7 linked regions of the Homo sapiens genome follow. The protein of the gene in region 2 purifies or fractionates together with the protein of the main gene of each other region. This does not show direct contact. Each region holds a gene or a part of one and is shown on either strand. Other genes may lie near its edges. The genes, in order: UBN2, ASF1B, MCM6, UBN1, NASP, CABIN1 and IPO4.

Evidence for each region.
Region 1: the proteins of ASF1B (region 2) and UBN2 purify together in Homo sapiens (affinity purification with mass spectrometry; 3 studies listed by BioGRID and IntAct, with this or other methods). This does not show direct contact.
Region 3: the proteins of ASF1B (region 2) and MCM6 purify together in Homo sapiens (affinity purification with mass spectrometry; 5 studies listed by BioGRID and IntAct, with this or other methods). This does not show direct contact.
Region 4: the proteins of ASF1B (region 2) and UBN1 purify together in Homo sapiens (affinity purification with mass spectrometry; 4 studies listed by BioGRID and IntAct, with this or other methods). This does not show direct contact.
Region 5: the proteins of ASF1B (region 2) and NASP purify together in Homo sapiens (affinity purification with mass spectrometry; 6 studies listed by BioGRID and IntAct, with this or other methods). This does not show direct contact.
Region 6: the proteins of ASF1B (region 2) and CABIN1 purify together in Homo sapiens (affinity purification with mass spectrometry; 4 studies listed by BioGRID and IntAct, with this or other methods). This does not show direct contact.
Region 7: the proteins of ASF1B (region 2) and IPO4 purify together in Homo sapiens (affinity purification with mass spectrometry; 6 studies listed by BioGRID and IntAct, with this or other methods). This does not show direct contact.

What each region holds. Positions count from the first base shown.
Region 1 is NC_000007.14:139,304,237-139,306,486, forward strand, and holds part of UBN2 (ubinuclein-2), read left to right. Parts: 3' UTR 1-2,250.
Region 2 is NC_000019.10:14,123,090-14,126,589, forward strand, and holds part of ASF1B (histone chaperone ASF1B), read right to left. Parts: intron 3,149-3,500; coding exon 3,033-3,148; intron 1-3,032. UniProt on the Homo sapiens protein: Histone chaperone that facilitates histone deposition and histone exchange and removal during nucleosome assembly and disassembly. Cooperates with chromatin assembly factor 1 (CAF-1) to promote replication-dependent chromatin assembly.
Region 3 is NC_000002.12:135,839,126-135,842,284, forward strand, and holds the end of MCM6 (DNA replication licensing factor MCM6), read right to left. Parts: intron 1,827-3,159; coding exon 1,710-1,826; 3' UTR 501-1,709; downstream 1-500. UniProt on the Homo sapiens protein: Acts as a component of the MCM2-7 complex (MCM complex) which is the replicative helicase essential for 'once per cell cycle' DNA replication initiation and elongation in eukaryotic cells.
Region 4 is NC_000016.10:4,857,481-4,860,980, reverse strand, and holds part of UBN1 (ubinuclein-1), read right to left. Parts: intron 2,992-3,500; coding exon 2,905-2,991; intron 2,414-2,904; coding exon 2,318-2,413; intron 1,957-2,317; coding exon 1,822-1,956; intron 1,117-1,821; coding exon 1,013-1,116; intron 318-1,012; coding exon 1-317. UniProt on the Homo sapiens protein: Acts as a novel regulator of senescence. Involved in the formation of senescence-associated heterochromatin foci (SAHF), which represses expression of proliferation-promoting genes. Binds to proliferation-promoting genes.
Region 5 is NC_000001.11:45,608,041-45,611,540, reverse strand, and holds part of NASP (nuclear autoantigenic sperm protein), read right to left. Parts: coding exon 3,204-3,500; intron 1-3,203. UniProt on the Homo sapiens protein: Component of the histone chaperone network. Binds and stabilizes histone H3-H4 not bound to chromatin to maintain a soluble reservoir and modulate degradation by chaperone-mediated autophagy.
Region 6 is NC_000022.11:24,175,304-24,179,128, forward strand, and holds the end of CABIN1 (calcineurin-binding protein cabin-1), read left to right. Parts: intron 1-807; coding exon 808-972; intron 973-2,200; coding exon 2,201-2,514; intron 2,515-2,749; coding exon 2,750-2,893; 3' UTR 2,894-3,325; downstream 3,326-3,825. UniProt on the Homo sapiens protein: May be required for replication-independent chromatin assembly. May serve as a negative regulator of T-cell receptor (TCR) signaling via inhibition of calcineurin. Inhibition of activated calcineurin is dependent on both PKC and calcium signals.
Region 7 is NC_000014.9:24,179,719-24,182,767, forward strand, and holds the end of IPO4 (importin-4), read right to left. Parts: intron 2,706-3,049; exon of another isoform or gene 2,686-2,705; coding exon 2,560-2,685; intron 2,446-2,559; coding exon 2,237-2,445; intron 2,126-2,236; coding exon 1,993-2,125; intron 1,900-1,992; coding exon 1,795-1,899; intron 1,206-1,794; exon of another isoform or gene 1,041-1,205; coding exon 971-1,040; exon of another isoform or gene 855-970; coding exon 724-854; 3' UTR 551-723; downstream 1-550. Other genes in the region: meiotic recombination protein REC8 homolog, read left to right, coding at 1-8, 82-550. UniProt on the Homo sapiens protein: Nuclear transport receptor that mediates nuclear import of proteins, such as histones, RPS3A, TNP2 and VDR. Serves as receptor for nuclear localization signals (NLS) in cargo substrates.

The sequences.
Region 1 (2,250 bases), on a different chromosome or scaffold from region 2:
CCATGAAAGAGGTGGAGCCATCAGCTGCTCAGGTTGTAAGAAAATGGGAGACGGAAGGCAGGATTCACTTTCTAACTGGGTCGGGGTGGGGAAGGTCAGGGTAGAAGGAAACATGTTTTCCCCAGCTCCCAGGAGGAGACGAAGATCATTTTATCCCACCTTCCATCCCTGTATATTAAGTAGTACTACTACATAGAATTTTCCCGTTATCGTTTAAAATAATAGCAACAGGAAAAGAAAAATGGATGCTGCAGTTTTAGTTGGGGCTAAATGCTGAGCAACGATTGTTGGAGTGTGTGTGTAAATTTAAATTGTAGCACATATTCAGGGTCAGGAAAGCAAAATGTTGGGGATGAGGAACCAGTGTTACCAGGTTCAAGTGAGTTAGTAGAAAGCACCAGGTCCAAGCAGACAAAGCATCTGGTTAATTTCCAGAATTGGCTAAGGTCCACTGAATCTCTAATGATAGGGTGTGTGTGTGTGTGTGTGTGTGTGTGTGTGTGTCTGTAAGTCACTTTTTGGATTTTTGTTGCTTTTTCCAGATAAGGCCTTAGTAGCCTCTAAATATCAACTATGCAGATAAACATACTCCTTTTTTTTTTCACATGTCCCTGTCTTTTCCATTCTCAGATAACAAATGTTAAGACCCAAAGAAATAAGGCATAAGGGTTTTTGTTGAATGTGTGTTTGTTCTTCTAGGGAAAATTAACAGAAGCATAAAATAGAGATACTTTGTGTGTTCATCTATCGTAAAATGTGAACTCTGTATTCAAAAACTATCTACAGATGCTTTCACTGGTGCAAAGCTGTAGTTAGTATCATGGAATGTCTTTGGGTTGTTAATGATAAAATCATCCCAGTGTTCAATTCTGAGAGTTTTAGATTATATGACACAATGTTCAGGTTTATAGAGCTGAATGGGTGATCAAACTCTAATTAAAAATAGCTTTGAATATTAATGTTGAATTCTTCTTTCTTGGTTTCCTTTAGTCTTCATTCTTTATTCAGAGCTCTTAATCATATTGCTACACTAGAATATGAATTGTATATTAGGAGTCTGGGGAGGAAAGGTTAAATTGTCTTTTACATCCTCTTCTCACTCACTCTGGCAACCTATCCTGTGTCCCCATAGAACTGAGAAGTAAAGCCCTGTGCAGGCCTGCTTTAGAAGACTTTACATCCCAGCAGAGGATTCAGGCAGGGACTCTCAGGATTTTAATCAGACTGCCTTTGAATAATGTGATATTAAATTTTATTTTTCTCATAGACTCTCAAAGTACCACTTGCTTGAAAGTAGCTACTTGTGATCTTTAATTTCCTTATATTGTGATAGTTCTACTTTTCAGTCTTTCCTGTGTATCTCCATTTCATAGTGCGTTAGTACTTAAACTTCGGACACTTTTCCAAACTGTTAAACAAGTCAGGAATGCTTTTCAGAATCGCAGTAGTATTATTAGGGTCTCTGTGTCTAGGACTTACAGTCATCAGTGGTCATCACTGGGACTAGAGGTGTTCTTTTTTTTCCTCTTCTCCTTTGTATTAAAAAATAGATTTTGCTACTGTATAATGCGGCATTTCATGACTTCCTCTTGTTACTTTTCAAGGTTATTCTAAAGAGATGGAGATCTTCATTAGAGGCTATTTCTCATAATAGTCTGCCTTGCTTATTTTCATACTCCCCCTGAAATAAGCCTACTTTTGCAAACAGGCCATATGAATCAAATTTTATGTTTGTTCCTCACAAAATTTTCTACACATTATTTGTTCCCACTTTGCTAATAATAATATAATGATTTTATTGTAAATCTGTGTTTTAAATATTTTATAACAGAGCACTAATGGAAACCTAATAAATACAAACAAGATAACTATTACCCAAGATAACATGGAAATACTTCTGTTTTTGAAGTTAACAACACCGTCTGCCCTCAAAGCACATTTAGGAGTATCAACCAAGACCAGCCAGTTGACATGTTTTTCTGTGTGGCAACCTGCCCTTAAATTGTCAGATCTTAACTATCTTGTGTTTGCTGTGCTTGCAGCCATAAGCTTTCCTCCTTTTTTGCTTATCCCTGCTGTTTGTAGGGTTAGTGTGCCCTCTGTCAGAAAATTGGGTTTTCTTTACTATACCTGCAAAATTACCAAGGGTTACCCCAATATTGTCTAGAGGAATTAAAAAGAACTTATTCTCAGTTGACAAAAGTATTACTGTTATACATAGTTAATTGGAAAGTTGGCCAACTTTGGTCA
Region 2 (3,500 bases):
GCCCCTCCAGAAAAGCTATTAGGTTTCAGACGGTGACAGCAGAGTATCGCACCAAGTGTGGGGTCCTGTGCAGCTGCCTGGGTTGCACACCCAGGAGGCCAGTCCTGACTGTTGAGTAGATAGGGCCTGTCAGTGGATTTAGTAGTGGTGGCTGAAGGGGTTAGATAGGATGTGGTAGCTTGGATTAGGGCGGTAACAGCAGTGATGGAGGTAAGGGAGTGTATCCGAGCAGAGGATCCTGAAAAATCACCTGGAGAACTCAGAATCTCCATTTGTTTTTTCTTTCTTCTTTTTTTTTTTTTTTTTTTTTGAGATGGAGTCTCACTGTCACCCAGGCTGGAGTGCAGTGGCGTGATCTCGGCTCACTGCAAGCTCCGCCTCCCAGGTTCACGCCATTCTCCTGCCTCAGCCTCCTGAGTAGCTGAGACTACAGGTGCCCGCCACCAGGCCTGGCTAATTTCTTGTATTTTTTAGTAGAGATGGGGCTTCACCATGTTAGCCAAGATGGTCTCAATCTCCTGACCTTGTGATCCGCCCACCTTGGCCTTCCAAAGTGCTGGGATTACAGGCGTGAGCCACTGCACCGGCCTTCTTTTTTTAAAGAGATAGCTTTTCCCTCTGTCATCCAGACTGGAGTGCAGTGGTGCAATCACAGATCACTGTAAACTCCTGGAACTCCTGGGCTCAAGCGAGCCTATTTTTTTTTTTTTTTTTTTTTAGAGACAGGGTCTCACTCTGTTGCCCAGGCTCGAGTGCAGTGGCGCAATCTCAGCTCACTGTAACTTCCGCCCCCTGGATTCAAATAATTCTCGTGCCTCAGCCTCCCGAGTAGCTAGGATAACAAATGTGCACCACCACATCCAGCTAATTTTTGTATTTTTTAGTAGAGACAGGGTTTCACCATGTTGGCCAGGCTAGTCTTTAACTCCTGACCCCAAGTGATCTGCCTGCCCCAGCCTCCCAAAGTGTTGAGATTACAGGTGTGAGCCATGGCACCTGGCCTCAAGTGAGTCTTCTGCTTCAGCCTCCCTAGTAGCTGGCACTACAGGCCTGCATCACTATGCCTGGTTAATGTTTTTTTTGTAGAGACAGGTCTCGCTGTCACCCAGAATGCAGTGCAGAGGTGCAATCATAGCTCGCTGTAGCCTCAAACTCTCAGGCTCAAGCAAGCCTCCTGCTTCAGCCTCCCAAGTAGCTGGGACGACAGGTGCAAGCCACCACACCCGGCTAATTTTTCTATTTTTTGTAGAGATGGGGGTCTCGCTATGTGGCCCAGGCTAGTCTGGAACTCCTGGCCTTAAGCAGTCCTCCCGCCTCTGCCTCCCAAAGTGCTGGAAGCCACCACACCCGGCCAGAATCTACATTTGACAACCCAGGTGGGGTGCTGCATGAGAGCCATTTAGGAGTTACAGTCCATCCTCATTATTCATGGGTTCCATATGTGCAAGTTCACCTACCTGCTAAGTTTATTTGTAACCCCAAGATGAACACCTGCTTGCTTTCACAGTCACTTGCAGACATGCACAGAGCAGGGAAAAACTGGAGTTACCTACCATGCCTGTTCCCACCTAGAGTTACCTACCACGCCTGTTCCCACCTGAGGTCAAACAAGGCAACACTCTGTCTTCTGGTCTCAGCTCTCACTGTGAATGAGCGTCCTTTCCTCAGCCTACTTAGTGCTTTTTTCCATGTTTTGTGCTTTTTGTTGGTGAGTTTGCTGTCTATGATGGCACCCAACGGTAGTGCTGAAGTGCAGTGTAGGATACAAGAAAGGCTTTATGGAAAATATGCGTATTAGAGAAGTTTCATTCAGGAGAGTTATAGTGCTGTTGGCTGTGAATTCAACATAAATGAACCACTGTATATATTAAATAAGGTATCTTTCCTTTTTTTCTGAGACAGAGTATCGCTGTATCACCCAGGCTAGAGTGCACTGGTGCGATCTCAGCTCACTGCAATCTCCATCTCCCAGGTTCAAGCGATTCTCCCGCCGCAGCCTCCCGAGTAGCTGGGATTACAGGCATGCGCCACCACACCTGGCTGATTTTTGTATTTTTAGTAGAGACGGGGTTTCATCACATTGGCCAGGCTGGTCTTGAACTCCTGACCTCAGGCGATCCACCCACCTCAGCCTCCCAAAGTGCTGGGATTACAGGTTTGAGCCATCATAGCCGTCCTGGTGTCTTTTCAACATAAACACACATACAAGTTTACGTATTAACCAGCTGACGAAAATGTGACTTCCAAGAATCTAACCCTGTATTTCCCCTGGGGCAATGGTTCAGTATTCACTAATTCAGTGTTCGCGGCAACTTTATAGAACGTAACTCTTGTAAATAATGGGAATTGCCTGTAAATCAGTGGCAGCTTTGACACAGAGGTGGGGGAAGGGAGGGCCTGACGGCCTCTGAGAGGTCAGATAGTTCCTGACAGTAGAACTAGGATTTGAACCTGAACTTTTAAATTGTTTTAATTGATTGATTGAGACTGGGTCTTACTGTTGCCCAGGCTGGAGTGCAGTGGTGTGGTCTTGGCTCATTGTAGCTTCCATCTCCCAGGCTCAAGTGATCCTCCCATTTCAGCCTCCCAAGTATCTGAGACTACAGGCGCACACCACCATGCTCTGCTGATTTTTACATTTTTTGTAGAGATGCGGTCTCACTATATTGCCCCAGCTGGTCTCAAACTCCTGGCCTCAAGCAATCCTCCCACCTCGGCCTCCCAAAGTGCTGGGATTACAGGTGTGAGCAACTGTGCCCGGCCTCTATGTTTTTAATACTTGTTTTTTTCTTTTTTAGAGACAGGGTCTCACTGTGTTGCCTAGGCTGGAGTGCAGTGGCTCACTGCAGCCTCAGACTCCCGGGCTCAAGCAATCCTCTCACCTCAGTCCCTGGAGTAGCTGGGTCTATAGGCGTGAGCCCGTGCCCAGCTGAACTTGAACTTTTGATTCCTGAAGCACTCTGTGGGATTTCAGGTAAAAGAGGATGTTTCTAGGAATCAAGGGCTAAGGCCTAAGGCCTCATCTTTCTTACCTGAAAGACAAACATGTGTCTCCCTGCTGGCACAGGGCCCACCAGCACCGAGTCTAGGATCTGATCAAATTCCTCACTCTCAGCCGAGCCAACATAAATGATCTTCCACTCCAGGTCTGCAAAGATATAGGAGGGTTAACTAATTGAAATAGCTCAACAGCAAGAAGGCAGGGATAGGCTCTTGTATTTTTTTTTTTTTTTGAGATGGAGTCTCGTTCTGTCACACAGGTTAGAATACAGTGATGCGATCTCAGCTCACTGCAACTTCCGCCTCCCAGGTTCCAGTGATTCTCATACCTCAGCCTCCCGAGTGGCTGGGATTATAGGTGCCCGCTGCCACGCCTAGCTAATTTTTTTTTTCTTTTTTGAGATGGAGTTTCACTCTTGTCACCCAGGTTGGAGTACAATGGTGTGATCTTGGCTCACTGCAATCTCTGCCTCCCAGGTTCAAGCGATTCTCCTGTCTCA
Region 3 (3,159 bases), on a different chromosome or scaffold from region 2:
CTGTTTTTTTTTAATAGACTCCCATGACTTTCCATAGACTGTAGAGGGTGAAGCCTGGGAATCTTTTTTTGTTGTTGTTGTTGCCGCCCAAGCTGGAGGGCAGTGGCATGATCTCAGCTCACTGCAACTTCCACCTCTTGGGTTCAAGCAATTCTCCTGCCTCAACCTCCTGAGTAGCTGGGATTACAGGTGCCCACCACCATGCCTGGCTAATTTTTGTACTTTTAGTAGAGACAGGTTTTCTCCACGTTGGCCAGGCTTGTCTCGAACTCCTGACCTCAGGTGATCTACTCACCTTGGCCTCCCAAAGTGCTGGGATTACAGGCGTGAGCCACCGTGCCTAGCCTTTTTTTTTCTTAAGTGAAAGCAAGGCTATTAGGAAAGTAAAGGAATAAAAAATGGTTACTACGTCAGCAGAGCAGCCTAGTCTTTAAAGATACATTACCTGATACCAGTCTTCTTATAAAAATCCCATGACAAATCTACTTGAGTATTCACTCTTGTTTTTAATGTTTGCCATTTATTTTTAAAATACTTAATTGTACATACTTGTGGAGTACATTTTGACAAGGTTTCATACAAGTTGATTCCAGGGAAAGAGATAATTATTGGGAGAAACATATTTAAATCATTGTTTTAACCTATATTAATCTGTCTTGCTTTCTACTAATAGATTTCTGGCTGCTCAAATTCACATTGCACTGGAAAGCTCAGACATCAAGGCAAGTTGAGTACTCATGGGTATTAGACTGTCCCACGTGGGCCTTAGCCTCAGACAGTTATTTTGCTTTTGTGACCTTTAACATACTTTGTGATTTAATGAATGCCATCTGTTGTTAAAAGCTGCAACACAGGAACTGCTCCACCTCATGAACATACTGATCATAGCTAAGTCTCAGGAACTGTTAGTATCATAAACGGTAATAACTTTTCCTGGAAGACCATAAAATTTGGGGATTGCTTGTAATATAGCAAATGACCTATTTCCCCTAAAAAAGCAATTTGAAAACAATCCTGAGAAATTACCCTTAGGACACAGAAGTAAAATAAATTACTAAAGAGTAATTTTAAAAAAGTATAATAAACTTTTATAAACTTAAAAAAAAAAAAAAACAACTGGAATTAACCTTGGAAAGTCATCTCTAAGGCCTCTAGCTTTCATATGAGTTCTCTAATGACTCCTTCTCATAGAAACCTCATCCATAATACCACAGTTCTACCTCTTCACTCCAGGTTAAGCAAAAAGGGAAAGTCTCACATTCAGAAGTAGATGGAAGTAATAATCAGGGTACAGTAGAAAGAAATCCAATAGACAACTTCAGAACAAGTTATTTTATTTTGATGAATAAAAGCAGTAGCTGGCAATTGAAAAAAAGTTATTTGCTCAATAGGACAGCACATACCTTAAAAGTAATGGGCCTTTTCTTACACATGAAAACAAAGGTATTGGTTATAGAGACTACACATTATTTGGTTCCAACTTCACTGGGACAGGAAACACACCAAAGGAAGTGCTGAAGCCTGTGTTGGTATGAAACCTGTGATGAATGTGACACATAGGACCATCAACTCAATTCTTGTTTCTGAAAACAAATCCTGGAAGCATCACTTCCAGAAACACTTCTGTCCCTAGCAGAGCTCCAGCCAGGCTCCAGGCCACGAGGTGCTGTGCCACAGTTCCTCAGCTCTGGTCAGTTACTTTCACTATCTCAATCTTCGAGCAAGTAGTTAGGGTTAACTACCAAGTAGGGATCTTCTTCATAGCTCTCACTTCCCTCTGTGGAGCCTTTCAATCCAGCCTGGGTGAGCTCAATTAGAACATGATCCTGTGAAACACAAATATTTGTCCTCAGGTTTCAAGCAGTATTATACCAATGTCCAGATATACAAGACTTGACCCTTCTTCCGAGTGTTTGCTATCAACATTTTCTTTCATTTCCCAACTAGAAACTCCTAGGAAAAGGACCACACTTTAAAAATCACTATCAGTGCTCTGCTAAACCCTGTTCCTAGTAGGATGCTGACCTTTTCATACCATAAACCCCTTGTGGAAAATTAAGAAATACTTAAATATATTACATCAAATGCTTGTAAATACAACTTCAAAAAAGGAAGTAATGCTTGAATTTTAAGGTTAAACAACTCTGCAAAATCTTCTAATTAATTGGAAGTCTGTTTCATACTTAATATCATTCAGCAATTTTTAATTATGACCACTGAACTTTTTCATATACCACCATTTCATAGAGTTAGGAGAAGAATCTATGAAAATTCATCTGAAAAATTTTTCACTCTGAGCTAATAAAAAAAAAGGTAGAACATGCCATCTGGCTTAAAATCTTGATGACAGATTTTAAGCCCACGATATAATTACAGGTTAGTCAAAACTGTCCACAAATGAGAAGAGCTCCTAGCCAAGCCCATAGAAAGGAACTCAGGAAACTGTGATTTGATCCTAAGAAGTCTGGCAAGGCTCCACAGTATAAACACTGAAGCCACTAAGGGGGACTGGACACTTTTTAAAAAATTGCCCTTTCAAATCTACCCCTGAAGTTAGATTGGACACTTTCAAGCACTCACTCTATGTGTTAACATACCTTCATAGGAAGCATCATATCTCATCAGCACAGTATAAGCTCTCTAGTTTTCTGTAGCAAATTAGTTCAGGTGGTAAGCCAAATTTTAAAAGGTAATCCAGGCTGAGCGCAGTAGCTCATGCCTGTAATCCCAGCACTTTGGGAGGCTGAGGTGGGTGGATCACCTGAGGTCAGGAGTTTGAGACCAGCCTGGCCAACATGGTGAAACACCATCTCTACTAAAAATACAAAAATTAGCTGGGAGTGGTGGCGGGCACCTGTAATCCCAGCTACTCTGGAGGCTGAGATAAGAGAATCATTTAAACCCAGAAGGCGGAAGTTGCGGCGAGCTGAGATCATGCTACTGCACTCCAGTCTGGGCAACAGAGCAAGACTCTCTCAAAAGATAAATAAATAAATAAATAAATAAATAGGTAATTCAAGTTTAGATCAGTTAGCTTCACAGTGTGTTCCAAAGTCCTGAAGCAGATTCCTTGCCTGGGTCGTTTTACTTTACACTGATCCCAAGGAGCACACAGACATGTCCCACCACTAGAAAAGCAACTCTGGACCCTGATCTGAG
Region 4 (3,500 bases), on a different chromosome or scaffold from region 2:
GGAAGGGACTTCCTTCTGGAGACTCACTGAGCAGATGCTCCAAGTCCAAATCCGTCAGCGAGTCCATGGCAGTGGCCGCCTGGAGCAAGTCGTTGTCAGAAGTAGAGCCAAAGAGTGAGAGCAAGGGGTCAGAGGCACCCTCCAGTTCCCGCAGGCCCTGAGCTTCCGCTGATGGGACCGCAACAGGCTTATGCTCCTCCTCCCTTTTTTTCTGAGCCTCTTTCTCTTTCTGAAATTTCTTTAGCATCTCTTTAACGCTTAAAGCCCCAGAATATTTCTTCTTCTTCTTCTCCTTACTGGCATTGAGGGCTGTGAAGCTGCAAGCAAGAGGGAAACTGGTCACTCAGACTATAGGACACCTCCAAAGGGAACTCCAGAGGCCTTCACCCCTGCTCCCAGGGTCATGGTCTCCAGGAGAACCTGTCACAGTCCACCCTGTCATTCCTCCTCCCTCCTCTTGGCATATGGAGCTCGTTCTTGCTGAGACCAAAGCTTGAGAGTTAATACAGGTTAGCAACACAGTGTCACATATGCTAAATTTCCGACGGGTTTTTAGAAACCACTGCCAGGCTGAAATAAAAGGTTGCAAAAAGGGGCAGGGAGAGCAAGAAAAGTATTTAGAGGGAGAAAGCAGGAGCAGCAGAGAACAGCAGCAACTTGAAGAGAAGCTGGGGTGAGACCAAGTGAGGAGAAGGAAGCATGACCATAGACAACAAGGGAAAACAGCGGAGACAGAAGGAGAACTGGGGCAGAGAGGAGCACCCCAGAGGACGAGAAACATCAGCAGTCACACAGTGACAACAATAGCTGCCAACACTGACAGTGGAACTATCTGACACACTGAGAGGTGAGCGTCTATGCCCAGAATGGCACTGCGGGAGGCGTGCGGGAGGACAGGAAGGCCAGGCCCTGCTGCCTCTTCCGAAGCTGTGGGGAGGAGGTGAGTCAGCTCCCAGTCGTCCTGCCCTAACAGTTCAGGCTTTATCCTAGCAAAGAAGCTGCTGCCTCTCACCCGGCTTTGGAAAACTTGGACTTTTTCGATTTCTTCTCCTTGTCATAAGTGTCATCTTTTTTCTTCTTCTTTATCTTCTCACCACCTTCCTTCAACTTCCGCTTCTGAGAATTAAAGACAAGGCACAGTTACACGGCTCCCTAACTCAGGGAGCAAGTGCACTACACGGCACTGGCCTTGCTCCGCCCGGGGCACATCCTGAGACCTGTCTCATTTCCTTCATGAACAAAAGCTCTCAGATCAGTCCCTGGACCACAAACCCACAGCATTCCCACCGACGGTGTCTCCTGGAAACACCCAGGGCTGAGACAACAGTGACCATTCTGGAGCCTGAAACCTTTGTAGTTTGAAAGTTACAAGTGGGCCCTACCTCTCATCTTAAACACATAGGCAGTGGTAGACAGGTTTTTAAACACACTGATCCTAAGGCTGACTGGTTTTCAGTGGGATGGCAGCCCTGAAACTGAAGTCCTCTACATGTCCACAGAAGAGGGTCAGCAAGAGTGGTACACATTCCCTCATTCCACAGCCTTCCCACCCTGAGGCCACCTCCAGAAACGACCCCTGCTGAGCCTGCTGGGATGTCATGTGACATGGACATAATGACCAAGTGCTGAACAGAGCCCCCACGGGCACGTGTCCTCATTAGGGCACACGTGTAAGAGGCGAGCCATCAACCTGGCACGGCTCTGCCTTTCCACCATCCTCCTGAGCCGGCCAAGCGCCACGTATTCTGGCAAGTCACCTACTGATCTGATAGGGTCACGTCAAAAAGCATTTCTGAAATCCAAAAGCAAGCACATTCTAACCTTTGGAGATTTTTTCTTCTTTTCTTTAATGAAGTCATCTTCAGACTCTGATGCTTGTCTAAACTGCAGGGTTCCCGAGTTAATGTAAAATCCTCCATACTTCGTAGTCAAAGAAGCAGGAACAAGCTCATCATACTGAAGATGGGAAACAAACTGTCAGCTCCAAGTTCTGCTTCTGCAGTCCGAAGGTGCAAAGTGGGTCTCGAGAGAGATGTGACTGTGCTCCTCTGCCACTTCCAAGAGCATGCTAAAACATCCTCTGGTCAAACATGAATGTCTGAGCTACAAGGTGTTTTGGACAGATCTGGTCATCACTTTCTGAAGAGGGAACTAAGACCCGGATAAAGAATGTCATTTCGTCTCTCATCAGTGCTGCTACTGCCTCATGCTGGGAAGAGGGCACGACTGCTCTGACCCCACCCCCAGCTTCCTGGTCAGTATCAGGAGGAGCTACAGGTACAGTGGGTCTGACACGGCATTTTCAGTAACTACTTACCGCCTCAGAGTTATCGATGAAGGAGTCGGATTCATCATAACCATACCCCATATCGATCAAGTCCTGTATTCGGTCTTTTCTACGTTTCTTTCCACCCTAAAATGTGAAAGCAATAGATTACATGCTTTTTGAATAAACACACAGAATTAACTGTGGCCTTGAACTTCATCAGCTATGACTCAAAGAGGTAATGCACTAACTAAAACAGTCACTCTCTCACATACACACAAACCCCAAAACCTCCTTTCCTGAAAACCTTTTAACATAGAACATATTTGTACCTGTATAAAATGTCCTAGGACAGAAAAATGAACTAAATGGCTTCTTATGCTTTGTACCAAAATATTTCTTCTAAGGCGACCACAGGCCCTTCTCGGTTATTTGTCCAGTTAGCTCTTCACACTAGCTCTGCCATGCCCCTTTTCTGTACCTTAATGCGTTAGGTTTAATAACTGCTTCTCTTCTCTCCATGCTTAAGGCTTACTTCCAGATCAGTGTTTATTACATGATGATCCACTAAAGGAATACAGTGTGGAAACGTCTCCCACCCAATGAGGTTGTTTTGTTATTCAAGAGAGAAATCTTACGTATTTTTCTTCAAATTTTCGGGCAAGGGCCTCTACTTTATGCCTTTCCTTTTCTTCGTCATTGAAAGGATCTGACAGATCTTTCTTCTGTAAAGAGATCGTTCCACAAAAAATAAGTCAGAAAATATTCCCATGTTCTTATTCATAGAAACTTCACTGATTACTCAATACCTCTATAAAAACAATGTTTTCCAGAAAAGGGCAAGGTAGAAAACATGCTACCATCTCATCAATGTTTATCTTAATTAAGAAAGTAAAATTTCCCTTAATGTAGGTTAATAAAACTTGATTGAATGCCTACAATCATCCACCACAGCATGAGGGGCTGCAGGACTCAAAGACAGCAAAGGGCCTTTAGAAGGAGATGCCCAGTCGCTACACAACCACGTTCAATAAAGTGGACTTCCTTTGTAACTCTTAAAATTTTCTTCAGGCATTTAAAAACATTCTAAGAAAGAGTCCATTGACTTCCAAAATAGTCAAGGGCTCAAAAACGTGAAAATCCCACTGAATGTGGTGCAAGTTCTTGAGAGCCGTTCTGCCATACTGTTTAGAAAGGTCTGAATTTGCACTTCTCTCGGTGCTACCAAAGTTAA
Region 5 (3,500 bases), on a different chromosome or scaffold from region 2:
GAGCCTAGATCACGCCACTGCATTCCAGCCTGGGTGACAGAGCAAGACTCTGTCTCAAAAAAAAAAAAAAAAAAAAAAAAAAAAGTAATGGCGATGGCTTTCTCCTTAACCTAGCTCCCCACCATTCCTTGAAGATGGTACAGATTCCTCAAGAGGAACCAGTAATATTCTTCTGAAGCAATTATAGGAATTTTAATTTAAAAATTTGATGTAAAACTTCCAAGTAATTAAGATATTTTGTTTCAAATTAGAGGTTGTCTTCTAGTATTCTGGTATGAGTAGGAAGAGATACCAGGTAAGAATAGAAGATAACAATATCAATTTAATTTTTCCTACAAATTGGGAAGATGAAGTATTTACTTTTCTATCAATTATCCTACATATGTAAATCTACTTCAGCTTTTCTGCATATTCTGCTAGAGGATGGGCAGAGTTAATAAGACCATCCATCTGGTCTAACTTTGGGGAACTAAGCCCGGACCCACTTGGAAATGTGGATATGAGAAGATAATGGTGTATGGTGGGCCAGGTGCAATGGTTCACACCTGTAATCCCAGCACTCTGGGAGGCTGAGGCTAGTGGATCACCTGAGGTCAGGAGTTCGAGACCAACCTGGCCAGCATGGTGAAATCCCATCTCTAGTAAAAATACAAAAAAATTAGTCGGGCCTGGGGACATGTGCCTTTAGTCCCAGCTACTCAGGAGGCTGACGTAGGAGAATCGCTTGAACCTGGGAGATGCAGGTTGCAGTGAGCGAGACCGCACCACTGCACCCCAGCTGGGCATGGTGATACACACCCATAGTCTCAGCTGCCTGAGAGACTGAGGGAGGAAGATGGCTTCAGCATAGGAGTTTGAGGCTGTCGTGAGCCATGACTGCGATGCCACTGTACTCCAGCCTGGCAAAAGAGCAAGACCCGATTCAAAGAGAAAAAGAACAGACCAATTATCTTTATTAGAAGCAAATGTACAGCCCAACACATGGCAAAGAGTCAAGAGGTGGCAGTAAACAGGGTTTTAATTTTTAAGTGAAAAAAACTGCTTGGAAGTTTTCTGCAGAATGGTGCTGCCACGTAAAGGGAAATAAAGCACAGAAAGTAAGTGGTTGAGTACTCAAGCCAGAAGTTTGGGTAGCAGGCTTCTCCTTACTGTGTGACTAGGGCAAGTTACTTAAACCCCTTTCTCCCATTTCTTCTTTTGTAAAATATGGAAAACTGTATTGTCTTTACAAGCAGAACAGTATCTGATATACAACACCAAAAAATGCAGCATATGAAAAGCCTGGGGCTTTTAAAATATAGTTAACTTTTTAAATAAGTGACAGATTTTTTTTTTCTTTTGGAAGACAGAGACTCGCTGTGTTGCCCAGGCTGGAGCACAGCGGCATGATCTCAGCTCACTGCAACCTCTGCCTCCCGGGTTCAAGCGATTCTTCTGGTTCAGCCTCCCAAGTAGCTGGGACCACAGGCGCATGCCACCACGTCCAGCTAATTTTTGTATTTTTAGTAGAGTCAAAGTTTCAACATATTGGCCAGGCTGGTCTCAAACTTCTGACCATGTGATCTGCCCACCTCGGCCTCTCAAAGTGCTGGGATACAGGTGTGAAGCTACTGCGCCCAGCCCACGACAAAATTTCTAAGCAGTGGGTGTAGGAAAAGGATGAACACTGTCTTCTTCAATGTGTGGTAACTTGGGAAGAATAATATATTCAAGGCAGATCTGGGTTCAGATTCAGTATTATGACCCTAAACAAGTCATGTAACCTTTAAACCTCAACCTCATCACTGTAACTTGGGCAATACTACCTATCACATAGTATTGTTTTAGGATCAGATGTAATGTATGAGAGTTCTAACAATGTTAATTATGATCCAACGAGTTTTCGAACAATCTGTAAGGGACTGTGATATCTGTATTGTAGCTTACCATTCAAGGTCTTAGGGGTCAGCCAGCAGAGCTTTTTACCATCCTTGCTCACAATCATTAAGATCAAGACATGGGAGTTTTGTTTTTTTGTGTGTGTGGTTTTGTTTGTTTGTTTTTTGAGGAATTTAGTTCTGTGCTTTTTTCCATAAAGAACTCCTAAAGCTCCATTAAGAAACCCAATGGTGCTACCATTTTAGCCAATTCATTTCCAGTTACTGAGCCTGTGTTGGCTGGAGTACAGGGACCTGCACATAGGTAGAAGGAAGTTTACCAGAATGAGTTCAAAGTATTGAAGATGGGTCTCTGAAAATCTAAAACTTACGAGAACTCTTGAAGTAGTCTGGCAATTACAAGAAGTAACAATTAGTTGGAATATACCTGTGGTTATTAATGCCAATGTTAGATGAAACTTATATACAGTAGAATCCTCAAATGATAGCAAAAGTCAGACGTGCCAGTTATGTAATAATTAGAGGCTTATACACCTTAATGAAATTTAATCACACTTAGACCAATAGCATTATAGAAAGCATCCACACTTTATAATATTCTAAGTAACAAAAATTCAGTTTAGCAGCCGAAGCAAGCATGAAATGAGGAAGGAAAACAGGAAGAGAGCTAATGGTTATGTTTTCTGTTGCCTTGGGGAAGGTGGGGGGGGCCTGTTTTAACTAATGTGAATAAGCCTCTAAACACTTCCTGAAGACTTAAAGAGGGGCACCAGAATTCTTTAACTCTGGTGATACAACAGTCAAGGTTAACTGCCTTCATTTAAATGGCATGCCTGCTTCAGTGTACCAATTCAGTGGATTCTACTGCTCTGTAGCTGCTTCCCAACGCACAGAAAAGGAGTCATGTGAACAATAATTTTAAAATCCAGAGGCATGCAAGTGAACATCCATTCAGCATTCTCTGCCAGCCTAGCCCACTATTTCCCTACCTACCCCACCCCTCATCTACCTTTTCCATCCCACTTTATTGGCTAGTATGCTGCAACAAGTTACTGATAGCTAGCCAAGTCTCAGAAATCACACAGAAGGCCTATTTTGCAGTTAGTAAAAGTGTTAGTTTATAAGCCAGCTAAAGAAGACTTGCTGCTTTTGATTGAACTTACTTGACTATCACGACCTTGTTAAACTACCCCCCTTTTCATTTAGCCCTTTCCTAATCCAAAGGCAGACGGAAAATCCTGAATGGAAGGCTGACTTTTACCCATAATTAGTGAGTCAAATCCAGAATGTACTCCACCCACTGCAGCTCTTGCATATCCCGGTTACCTTCACCCTCTTTCATCTGTTCTTCTCTCTCTTGTGTCTCTTCATTAGCAGCTATCTGAACTTTGTCTTCAGGTGATTTCTCAGTAGCTCCCTGGGCTACCTTGGTATCAACCCCATCTCCAGCTGCCTCAGACTCTTCTACAGACAGCTTAGTCTCCTCCTGACTAGGAACCAGCTTTGCCCTGACCTTCTCCTCTAGTCCTGAGCCATCTTTTGTTTCTGTCAGTCTTTCTATAGAAGTCTGTGGTTCAATAGGAGTCTGATCTCCTACAACTGACGGTCCATTGACTGCACCAT
Region 6 (3,825 bases), on a different chromosome or scaffold from region 2:
GGCCCCAGCTTTGTACCGGGAGCTGTCACTCCTGCTGACCAAGGAGGGGAGCTGGCTCCCCCTGCTGGAGAGGATGGAGGGCCTCCTGGCAGAGGAGCGGGATGGGGAGGCGGTGGGGTGGCTGGAAAGGCAGTGGTTGATGACCAGTGTGGTGGGAGAGTCCAGACCTGAGTGAGAAGGTGGGGAGCAGCAAGGGAAGTGAGGGCCTGGAGGCCTGGGAACCGGGGACCGATGCTGAGTAGTCACCTGGCCAGCAGCCACAGGCACAGCATTTGCCCCTCAGGCCCATCCCGGCCTTGGCCCAACTGAGCCCAATTCCTGGCCCCTGCCTCAGGCCAGGGAAGGTGTGGCTGGCTGGGCAGGAGCCATAGTGCCAGCGTCTACTTTGGTCTTAGTTGGGTTGTTTGGATTTTGGTCCTGACCTCGTTTCTGAATGCTGCTTATGTGAGCTGGAGGGAGAGTGGACACTGCCCCCCCATCCCCTCTCACTGCCTTGTGATGGGATCTTAAGAGAGGCTGGGCCTCGAAGACTCAGGTGTGGCCCCACTGGGTCAGGTGTATAGCCCTCTCGGGAGGCGGAGGAGCCCTCTGGGGGTGGGGAGCCAGCCCCTACCAGTGTCCTCTTGGGTGGTGAGTGGTTTCTTGGCAGCACCAACCTGGACTGCCTCAGCCAGGACCCCAGCATTGGCCACACTCCCCTGCCCAGTGTCCCAGGGCACAACCTGGGCCCATAGGACCTGACACAGATGCGTTGGAGCCTGCGGGGTGGATGAGTCTATTACCTGCAGTGAGCCCATGTCCCCACAGAGGGAGAAGAGCTGGCGAGAGTGGCAGAGGGCACCAGCTTCCCGCCTCAGGAGCCACGGCACAGTCCGCAGGTGAAGATGGCCCCCACAAGTTCCCCGGCAGAGCCACACTGCTGGCCGGCAGAGGCTGCCCTGGGCACAGGCGCTGAGCCCACCTGCAGCCAGGGTAAGGCGAGTTGGGAGCAGCCCAGCACCAGCCCCCAGGAGGCTGCCTCACAGCTGGCAGCCAGGGTGGGTTTCCCGGCCTGGCCTTGAAGGGCAGGGCCTGGGGATGCCCCATGGAATGAGATGGGGAGGAAATGGGGGTAGTGCAGGCTGGACAGGGGAGCCAAGGGAGAGGCCCAGGCTGAAGAGTTTAATGCGTGGCCCATTGTGTCAGGGGCTGGGTAGAGAGGGACCCCAGAGGCTTATTCCACCCCTGGCATCACGGAGGGGTACTAGCGAGGGCAGGCGGCCTGCTTGGGCCCACTGCAGAACCCAGGCTGAGCCCAGAGTGGGGAAAGAGGAGTAGGCATGGACAGGGCGGAGCATGGGCCTGGTGACAGACACTTGAGGGACATCAGCAGCAGGCAGAAGGGTGGACAGGTTGGGCTGGGCCAAGCAGGCGTCCCCGTCGACAGCCACGTCAGATTCTAGCCCTGGCCTCAGTCCGGCCTGTTCCCACCAGCTGCCCCAACCAGCCAGACCCCTTGGGGACTCCTCCTGGCCTGGGCCTCCCACAGACCACTTGGGATGGCAGGACCTGGCGCCAGCCCCTGGGGGCCAGGCATGGGCTCTGTGTAAACCCCATTCCTTTTAAAGCCATGGGGCTGCAGAGGAATGTGGAGACGAGCCAGGCCAGCCGGGTCCTCCCAGCTCGTGCAGCTCCCTAGAGGCTGCCAGGCCTGCAACTGGCCCAGCCTTCAGGCTCTGGGCAAACTCAGCCCCTTGCTCCCACTGGAGGATGAGGCGAAAGTGGATGCCCTGGGGCCAGCTCAGTGACCATGCCTGGCTGAGCGACCAGCTCTGGGCTTCAGTGTCCTCCCTGGGGCATAGACACCAATAGGACATGCATCCTAGGATGGTTGTGGAAATACGACAGTTCATGCAAGCATGATGCCTGGAGGTCTTACAGAACCCAGCAAGGCTCAGGGAGTCTCAGGTCCTGGGCTTTGAGTTCATGGTGTTACTGGGTAAGGTTCACAGTCCCAGCACCCCACAGCTCAGAGCCAGAGTTGGGTCCCTGCAGGCCTGAGCCAAGTATTTGCCCAGGGTAGAAGCCTTGGAGCCTGCCAGCCAGCACAAACTACACAGCATAAAGGCCCAGGACCTGGGGGGAGCGGGTGGGGGCGAGATAAAGTGCTCACTGTGTGATGCGGCAGGCAGGAAGTGCTCTTGGTACCTTTGTCTTCCAGAGGGGAAACTGAGGCCTGAGCCGAGAAGGGATGGGGAGGCTCAGGAGGCTGCGAGTGAGACTCAGCCCCTGAGCTCTCCCCCAACAGCTGCCAGCTCCAAGGCCCCCAGCAGTGGGAGTGCCCAGCCACCAGAGGGTCACCCAGGCAAGCCTGAGCCCAGCCGGGCTAAGTCCCGCCCCCTGCCCAACATGCCAAAGCTGGTCATCCCCTCCGCCGCCACCAAGTTCCCCCCTGAGATCACCGTCACGCCACCCACCCCAACCCTGCTCTCCCCCAAAGGCAGCATCTCGGAGGAGACCAAGCAGAAGCTGAAGGTGACCTCAGGGGCTGGGCTGGAGCCATGTGTGGGTGGGAGGCATAGGTTACAAAGGGGGCCTAGGATGGGGGTGGGGGTGGCAGGAGGGCCTGGGGTGTGGGTGAGGATGGCATAGGGGCCTGGGGCAGGGGTGAGGGTGGGAGGGGGGCCTGGGGCAGGGGTGAAGGTGGCAGAGGGGCTTGGGGCAGAGCCCAGCCATCCTTGACCAGTGCCCCGCCCGGCCCTCTCCGCAGTCAGCCATCCTTTCTGCCCAGTCTGCTGCCAACGTGAGGAAGGAGAGCCTATGCCAGCCAGCCCTGGAGGTCCTGGAGACATCCAGCCAGGAGTCCTCGCTGGAGAGCGAGACAGACGAGGACGACGACTACATGGACATTTGAGGGGCCACTGCAGCCCCACCGCCACGCCCCAGGGGACCAGCCAGGCCTGGAATGCCCCCTGGGCAGGACCCTGGGCAGGACCAGAGGCCCACATGGATGCCACTCCCCACACAGCCCCCAGGCCTGCCCAGCCCACCTCCTCATGGCATCCTCCCTGTACCCAGGTCAGGCTGTCCACACCACATGGGAGCCCAGAGGAGGAGGGGCCCGCCTTAGCCATGTGAAGGTGGATTGGTCGCCATCTGCACGCCAGGCGGCATCCTTTTCTATGAAGTGTTGACTTTGTAAATCTGCCCACACCCAGCTGGCCATATCCACCCCTCGACGCCGGGATGAGCCGGCTCTGCCTGTGTCACAGTGGAGGGGTCCTTTAGGGCCAGGCTCACCCCTCACCCTTTTTTTGGTTGCTTTTCTAATAAAGATGGAACAGTTGTCTTTGCCTCTTTGCTCACCTCTAGGGGGCAATCTGGCAGAGTCTCTGGCGGAGAGTTGCTGTCCCCAGGGATTCTGGGCCTTTACTGCCATAGTCCATAGGGCAGGGCCTAGCCCCCCTCCTTCTCCAGCATCTCAGGGACCAGCCAGGCAACCAAAGCAGCGGCTGGGGGTGCCCAGTGGGGTAAGGAGAGAGCCGACTCGGGGCTGGGCCAGGCAGACGCCTCTAGTGCAGCTGGAGCCAGGCTTCAAAGGGGAGTTAGGTGCATCCCCAGAACGCACCTGGGTGCCAGTGGGTGGGAGGCTGTACGGTGGGAGGGCAGGCAGGGCTGGGGCAGCTGAGAGGCTGGGAGGAGGGGGCTGTCAGGGAGGGAAAGGGGGGATGGGGCCGGCAGGGAGGGTACTTAACTCCCATCACAGTCGCCCTAATGGGGCCAGTCACAGAATAGCTGGGCTCAGTGCAAGACATAAATATGAAGCTCCTTGATCAAAAAGGATTA
Region 7 (3,049 bases), on a different chromosome or scaffold from region 2:
GTGCACAGGTACCAGGGAGGTGGCACCTTGATGGGGTGGACCCGGGCTGAAGCCTCTGCTAATGGTTCTTGATCCCTATAGGGCAGTGGCACTGGAGCTGCAGGCTAACAGGGAGCCCGACTTCAGCAGCCTGGTGTCACCTCTCAGCCCCCGCAGGATGGCTGCCCGGGTCTTCTACCTGCTCCTGGGTGAGTGTATGCATGTGTGTGTGTGTATGTGGGGCAGGGACACAGAGACCAGAGGCCCGTACAGGGACTCCCCCGACCTGCCCTCTCCTCGCCTCTTGACCAGTGCTCTCAGCGCAACAGATTCTTCACGTGAAACAAGAAAAGCCATATGGTCGCCTCCTGATCCAGCCGGGGCCCAGATTCCACTGAGGTTAGAGTCCATTTACAAAGCTGCCAGGAAACCGGCCACTTCTAGTAAACCACGTCGTGCCTCACTGGGTCCTGCTTACCTCATTTCTGAATGTGCATTTCCAGCCTTCTTGCTCTCAGAGCTATTGTTCAAGCAGAAAACAAGCTGCTTTTATTACAGTATGATGTCATGACTCATTTGTAACAGATCCAGCCTCAGGGACAGCCCTGTAAGGCAGCAAGTGGGGCTGGCTCCAAATGGGTATGAGTCTCAGAATCTTTGGTAAGGCAGAACTGAACTGGGCTGAGAGGTGGTCTTAAGGCCTGGGCAGGCTCTATTCTCTCTGGACTGGCTGCAGCCTGCAGTCTAGGAGAGGCCCAGTACAGCCTGGAGCTCCTGAGCCTTGTCAACAGGCAGTGAGCCCAGAGCTGCTTGAAAGCTGTCGGTGTGCTGTTTGGCCAGGAACGTCAGGAGCAGCAACAGTGCGGCCTTGGTGTCTGGGTGGAGAGGGAGGGAGAAAGGTCGGGGCTCCTAAAGCCTCGCTGCCCCAGGCTCTCTGAGCCCTGCCACTCCCAGCCTCCCGCAAGCCCCTGCCTATGACTCCTACCCTCACCTGGTGGGATCTTGTTGTCAGCCAGAATGAGGCTGCAGATACGCAGAAGCTCGGGAGCCACATCTATAACCTGTGAGGAAAGAGTGGCTGACTCAGGGCAGCAGCCCCAGACCCCAGGTCTAGGAGGGTGGTCAGGACCAAGGAGTGGCAGAATCTCTTATCAGGGGGGTGGTTGCACCTGGTACTGATTCACAGGCATCCAAGACAACTATGAACATGAGAAGAACCAATGAAACTTGGTGCTAATGATTTTTTTTGGAGGGAATGGGGGATGTGGGACAAGATGATTAAAGTCATAGCCTCAAGACCTAAAGAAACCCAGACACTCAGGAGCTTCACCTACACAACAGTCTCTAAAGGTATAAGACAAGGGTGACACAAACACTCTGACATGACTCCAAACCTAGCTACTTGGTACAGGCAAAATCTCTTCAGAGAGCAGAGCTGATCTGATTGAAATGTATGGTGTGGTGGCCCAGAGGTACCCTGGGCTCCACAGAGCACAGTTTGAAAGGGCCCCGGTTTAGGAAACCAGCCTAGGAAAACTGCAACTTCTGGCTCAGACCAAAGGGTAGAAATGGAGCTTCCTCAGGAAAAATGCTACGTGGAGAAAGGAAGTCCCTCCTGTCCCATCACAGGACTGGCTGCCAATCCTTGCAGACAAATAAGAAATGGTGCAGGGAGTACCAAAAGAACAGCTGAAACTGTCACCTTGCATCAGGTGCAACTGACAGCCTGGAGCTCCCGAGCCTCATCAGCAGACAGTGCCTATCACTGAGTGGAGCGGCACGTTCCCCTCTGAGGGCTGCCAGCAGCAAGGTTACCTGGTCAGGGCTGCTCTGGTACAGGAAGCTGAAGAGGCGCCCAATGGTGACCCACTCCTCCAAGTCCTCCTTCAGTGGCAGGGCATGCAGTAGGGCAGCCAGCACCTGGGCACACAAATGTCTCAGGCCAACCTGCCCTGCCCTCCACCACCCTCCCTCCTCAGCTTCCAAGCCCTGCCTGATGTCTCCCTCCCTCACCTGGGGCTCTGGTTTCCTGGTGGGACTGGCCATCAACAGGCGGGCAAGTGCCCCACAGATGTTGTCACGGACACGATCATGTCGCTCCCGCGCCAGGAGGGGAAAAAGGAGCCCCAGCAGCTTGGGGAAGTGTCTGGTCCACAGTCAAGGAATGGCCACACGCTCAGGTAGACCTTGCCCACCTGCAAGCCCTGGGGACACTCCCCCAACCTCCAGTCCCTCCCGTCCTGCGAGCCAAGGATACTCCTGGGCAGGGTGGCCCCCATGCTCTGCCAGCACGCCCATCCCGAAGATGGCATTGCTTCGCACCTCGGGGTCTGCCTCTTGGGCGGTGCTCAACAGCACAGGGAGCAGCCGAGACACAAACTGGGCTGAGGCAGCACCCAGGCCCTGAATAGTCTCTGCCAAGGTCCCCACTGCAAAGGACTTCTCTGCCACTGTGCAGCCCTGTTTCTGATGGGGGAGAACAGGAAGGAGTACAGATCAGCCTGGGCCAAGGATAAAGGCTGTGGTGGGCACCGGGTGCACGAGGGGACTAGGGCTTGAAGCCAGAAGATGGACACTCACTGTCTTGCACACCAATAATGGCAGGAAACCGGCAAAGAATGGGGCAAAGGAGTCTCCCCCAGCCGCGGCTGCCAGGGCAGGGATGGCCTCTCCAGCGTGCTCCAGCAACATGGCGTCGTATTCAGCCTGTGGAGCCAGGTCAGGGGCTGGAGCACCAGGGCCAGCTCAGTGACTGTACACCTCCCTCCCACGCTCTGCCACCAGCTGCAGGGGTCCCTGGGGCTGCCCTTGGTTGATAGGGCTGGCCCCTCTCAAGCTGGGTGTTTCCATGACCCAGCTTCTTCCCCTGGCTCTTCTGCTCCTACCTATCACTCCAAGCACACCCCAGTCCACACTGCTCTCCTTCCCTGAACTCCCACTGGCTTAGTGGGATCAGGGTTGTATCCCTCTGGCCATTACCAGTCTCTTTTAGTGGCCCTGGCTGCCCCAGGCCAAGCCCAAATACACTGTCCACCCCTGTCCCTGTGGAGACTGCCTGGACCGCCTGGTC